Linked DNA regions of Homo sapiens: region 2 is linked to region 1. The links come from fine-mapping of genetic effects on gene expression. A gene starts in region 1. The other region holds a variant in brackets. All regions are shown on one strand. Distances are from middle to middle. Region 1 holds the start of ACE (angiotensin I converting enzyme). Region 2 overlaps ACE (angiotensin I converting enzyme).

What was found. PIP is the estimated chance that this variant, and not a neighbour inherited with it, causes the effect.
Region 2: its variant is fine-mapped to the expression of ACE in lung (TOPMed, PIP above 0.99).

What each region holds. Positions count from the first base shown.
Region 1 is chr17:63,476,021-63,478,520 of GRCh38, forward strand. ACE (angiotensin I converting enzyme) reads left to right here and starts at 1,041. Exons shown (of 25, transcript NM_000789.4): 1 at 1,041-1,323; 2 at 1,911-2,078. The coding sequence starts at 1,075. RefSeq lists silencers at 1,301-1,390, 1,491-1,550.
Region 2 is chr17:63,497,806-63,500,716 of GRCh38, forward strand. It overlaps ACE (angiotensin I converting enzyme), which reads left to right. Exons shown (of 25, transcript NM_000789.4): 25 at 1-568. Among named protein-coding and RNA genes, the nearest start is that of ACE, 22 kb to the left of the region's middle. The variant G/A (reference allele first, on the strand shown) is at 1,083.

The sequences.
Region 1 (2,500 bases):
ACCTCCCACTGCGCCGCCGGGCCTCTGCCAGGGTCAAGGGGCTTCCCCCCTCTGGCAGCAGACGCCATGGTGCCGAGGTGGCCTCCACAACCGCCCTGTGCGCCAATAGGACAAGACTGTCCTCCCTCCCCCACACTTGTCACTTTGAGGGACACGTGGATGAGACAGGAAAACACAGGGGAGTGTGGAGACCTGAGGTGACTTGGAGCAAGCCTCTCAACCTGAGCGGCAATTTCTTCATCTGTAAAATGAGGGGGTTGTTCTCATCTCTGAGGCTTTGTGTCGCTCTCAAAGCCTGCTAGCCTCGGGTTCTAGGACTCTGTTGGGATCGTGTGTGATGTTTTCTGCTGAGCGACTGGCAGCCTGTGTCCTCGGGGGGAAAGAGGGCAGGCGCTCCAAAGCTCCTGCGCTCTGTGGCTCCCCCTCCCTCGCAGCCCCAAGCCCCAGGTGTGCCGGCCGCCCTGAGCCCCTCCAGCACCTCCCGGAGGCGCCTGCAAGACACCTAAGGTCCCCGCCTCCCTCCTCTCCCCCCCGCCACACCCCTACCCCCGGCAGGCGACGTCCCCGCCCCTCGACCATGGCCTGGTGAAGAAGCCGGCCAGGCCCGATCAGCCCCATCCCCGCCGCACGAGCGGCGCCTGCGGACAGCTCCTGGGGCCCCGGCCTTGTCACTCCGGAGGCGGGAGGCTCCGGGGGGTCGGGCTGGGAAGATCGAGCCGGAGGCCGCTAGGCTCCCAGGCCCCGGCCGAGGCTGCGCGGCCGCACGGTGGGCAGGCTCGGGTGTTCCGGCAAACTGCCGGGTCCCCATCTTCTAAAGAGAGGAGGCCCTTTCTCCAGCTTCCTCTGCGGGAGCCCGACCCAGCCCCATCCCGCCACCCCCGGGCTGCACCTCGGCCCCTCCCCGGCCCGCGCCCCTGCCCGGGGCGGGCCAGGAACCTCGGCCCGCGCCGCTGGGGACTCTGGAGCGGAGGAGGAAGCGCGGCGGGGCGGGGGCGGGGGTGTGTCGGGTTTTATAACCCGCAGGGCGGCCGCGGCGCAGGAGAAGGGGCAGAGCCGAGCACCGCGCACCGCGTCATGGGGGCCGCCTCGGGCCGCCGGGGGCCGGGGCTGCTGCTGCCGCTGCCGCTGCTGTTGCTGCTGCCGCCGCAGCCCGCCCTGGCGTTGGACCCCGGGCTGCAGCCCGGCAACTTTTCTGCTGACGAGGCCGGGGCGCAGCTCTTCGCGCAGAGCTACAACTCCAGCGCCGAACAGGTGCTGTTCCAGAGCGTGGCCGCCAGCTGGGCGCACGACACCAACATCACCGCGGAGAATGCAAGGCGCCAGGTGGGCGCCCGGGCCCGGGCGGGGGCGGGGCGGGGCCGCGGCGGCCAATCACAGCACGCGGCCGGCTTGTGGGGCGGGCAGGCTGGCGCCCCCGACCCGAACCCCACCCCGACCCCGGACCCTCGCCCCGACAGTCAGCCGCGGGGCCCGAGCGCCGGGCTGCGCGCACGGCCTGCGCTCCCAGCATGCACGAGTTGGATGGATGAGGGTGGCTGCTCCCAGGCCGCGCCCGCCTTCGCCGAAGGTGCTGGGCTTGGCTCTGGGGCCCCCGCGCTCTCGGGCAGCTGCCTTCTCACCTCCGGACGCTGTCGCTGTCACCGTCACCGCACTGCACTGTCCATCCACCCTCCACTCGCCCGGCCTCTTTTCTGGTCCCAATTTCTGCTCCACCATTCCCATGAGGCAGATTCCCTCCAGAAGGAGGAAGCGCGGCTTCCGCAAACTAAGGTCTCCCGCAGGGATCTCCCCAGGGCCCGGGCTCTGGAAGCCCTTGGCCTTCCTCCCCTCCCCCAGCACCGTGGCTTCTCCTTTATGGCCTGCATCTAAGCAGGGTCCTACACCCTCCCTGCCCTCCTGGTGCCCAATAGGAGGAAGCAGCCCTGCTCAGCCAGGAGTTTGCGGAGGCCTGGGGCCAGAAGGCCAAGGAGCTGTATGAACCGATCTGGCAGAACTTCACGGACCCGCAGCTGCGCAGGATCATCGGAGCTGTGCGCACCCTGGGCTCTGCCAACCTGCCCCTGGCTAAGCGGCAGCAGGTGGGCTGAGGGCTGAGGCAGAGCTCGGGGGCGGCCTCCTAGTGCCCCATCGTGGGGGTCGGGGGAGAGCAGCCCATCAGGGAGGGAGGAACCCTGGGATCCACATGGGCCCTGACAGAAGGGAAAGCCCAGGTAAGCACAGAATGGCTTTCTGAGCATTGATTTTTCTTGGAGATGGGGTGGGGAGTTACTTTCTGTTAAAGGAAGCATTCTGGAGTAGGAAGCCAAATTCAAATACACTTCTCCCTAGGCTGGTTTATGAGCTTCTTTGGAAGAGTTGAGAAGGGCTGGGCGTGGTGGCTCAAGCCTGTAATCCCAGCACTTTGGGAGGCTGAGGTGGGCGCATCGCTTGAGCCCAGGAGTTCAAGACCAGCCTGGCCAACATGGCAAAACCTCGTCTCTACAAAAAAAAAATAGCTGGG
Region 2 (2,911 bases), 22 kb after region 1:
AGCCCGCCACTGTCCTGCCACCGCAGGCAGCCCCTGTCTGGCCCAAGCACTGACCCACGCGGACTCTGGGAAGCAGACATCCTGGGCTGCTGGCCTCACATTTCCACTGGCAGTGGAGCCTTTCCCTGCTCCACAAATGGCCAGGTCCCCCCAGGGGAAGGCTTCCGGCTGTTATCGGCTGCCTCAGGGGGCGAGTACCTTGGAGGGCCTGCTTCAAGGAGGGTGCCCCCTGGAGGGCACACACCAGCCTAGTGCTTACCTTGGCTCCTGCCTGTACCAGCTCCATGACTCTGCTCGGGTGAACAGCCTTGGCTCTCAGACAGCCATTCTAACACTGCCAGTGCAGAGGGGCCTCAGACGCTGGAGTGTAGCAGTGGCTGCACCTGCACAGGGATTAGCTGCCAGCAGCCACCCTGCTGGCGTCCCAGCACACACCTCCTCACTCCCTGCATTGGAGGGAGTGTCATTTTAAGGGACATTTTTATGACTTTTATGTGTATGTTTATGTAGAAATTTGGAAAATACAGAAAACTGTAAAGAAAATAAAAGCCCTTTATATCAACGTCAAGAGATAAGCCCTGTTGACGTTTTGGTGTACAACTTGCCGGACTTCTTCTCAGCACATGTGTATTTTAAATGGGATCACACCATATTTACAGTCATACATCCTTTTATCACTTCATACAACTAGATCTGTTTTTCTGATATTTAAATGCCAGACTTCGAACTTGGCCAATAGAAGTTGGTCCATTTGCTGGGGCCAGGGGCTCCCCAGCCACCCGGGCCCCTCTGTCAAACCCTCAGCCCTGAGTCTCTTCTGGGCTTTGCTGATGTCTTCACCCTAGCTAGGTCCATCTCCCAATATCTGTCCCCCTTAGTCCACAGCTTTTGCCCCCCAATCCAGGTGCCGTGCGTGTCTCTGTGTGTCCGTGTCTGTGTGTGTGTTGTACACAGGCTTGGCTGTTACAGGCCCATTCTGTAAGGCAGGATGTGGGGCTGAGGTATTTTAGGATTGAAAGAGGGTGGAAGTTTATGATTACATAGGACAATGGAATTTATAAACATGTCCTCTAAATGGTTCC[G/A]AGTCATCTACCAATGAAGACTTCTTGAATTATCCCCCCTTTTCCCAGCCTGTTTTGAAAGCTCTTTGTTTACCAGACAAAGGTCATCATCATATGACCCCCTTTGCCTTTTTTTTTTTTTTAAGATGGAGTCTCGCTCTTGTTGCCCAGGCTAGAGTGCAGTGGTGTGATCTCGGCTCACTGTAACCTCCACCTCCTGGCTTTCAAGCGATTCTCCTGCCTCAGCCTTCCGAGTAGCTGGGATTACAGGCGCCCACCACCATGCCTGGCTAAATTTTTGTATTTTTAGTAGAGATGGGGTTTAATCATGTTGGCCAGGCTGGTCTCGAATTCCTGACCTCAGGTGATCCACCCACCTCGGCCTCCCAAAGTGCTGGAATTACAGGCATGAGCCACCATGCCTGGCCCCCGTTTCCTATTTTTATGAACCACAGCGGTTCATGCTGCCTGTCAGAGCTTCTGGGCCGCGTGAGGTCACCAGCTTTCAACACGCAAAGGACTGCACTGCAGCTGGGGGAAGAGAAACTCCACACTGCATTGGCCTGGCCAGCCTTACCCTCTGGGCTTTTGAAATAGTATCTTTTTTCTGTTTGTTTTCAAACAGAGTCTCGCTCTGTCGCCCAGGCTGGAGTGCTGGAGTGCAGTGGCCTGATCTCGGCTCACTGCAACCTCCACCTCCCAAGTTCAAGCGATTCTCCTGCCTCAGCCTCCCGAGTAGTTGGGCTACTACTTCAGGCGCACGCCGCCATGCCCAGCTAATTTCTTTTGTATTTTAGTAGAGATGGGGTTTCACCATGTTGCCCAGGCTGGTCTTGAACTCCTGAGCTCAGGCAATCCGCCCGCCTCAGCCTCTCAAAGTGCTAGGATTACAGGCATGAGCCACCGCGCCCGGCCCAATAGTATCATTCTTTAGATGCCTGCCTCTGCCTCCTTGGGTGAGTGGGGAGAGGCAGGGGATACCTGGAAGGTAGCAGAGGAAGAGGAGGCGGTAACAGCAGGAAGAGGGGCCACCCCAGTGTTTTCTACTGGTGGCCCTGAAGGCTGAGCCCATCCCCGTGCCATGCCTGCCAATGCCGCTCTTGGGAGACCAGCTCTCACCTACGCTAGCCACAGGTGGTGGCTGCCAGACAGTTTCTCTGATCCCCACAGCCCTCCCCACCCTCTACCTTCCTCTGTCTGCCTAACCCCCTTCCCACCCACCCTGGCTTTTAACATAAGTGAAAAAGTGGCTAACCCCACCTCTGCACTTATCACCTGTGTGACCTTGGGCAGTTTGTTTTTGCAGTCTGCATTTTCTTTTCTTTTCTTTTTTTTTTTTTTTTTTTGAGATGGAGTCTCGCTCTGTCACCCAGGCTGGAGTGCAGTGGCGTGATCTCGGCTCACCGCAAGCTTGGCCTCCTGGGTTCACGCCATTCTCCTGCCTCAGCCTCCCGAGTAGCTGGGACTACAGGCGCCAGCCACCACGCCCGGTTAATTTTTTGTATTTTTAGTAGAGACAGGGTTTCACCGTGTTAGCCAGGATGGTCTCAATCTCCTGACCTCGTGATTTGCCTGCCTCGGCCTCCCAGAGTGCTGGGATTACAGGCGTGAGCCACCGCGCCCAGCCTGCATTTTCTTTCTTACGGTTCTTATCAACCCTCTCAGCGTTGCCATGAAGATGAAATGAGATGATGTACAAAGTCCTAGTAGAGTGTCTTCTCTTTATAATGAATGCATCGTCTCCTGAGAAAGCTAGTTTCATAACAACCCCAGATCAGCCAAGTCCAGATCAGCCCTCTCACTTGAGACAGGAAGAGGACTCGGGGCAACTGGGTGCCGGAGCTGGACTG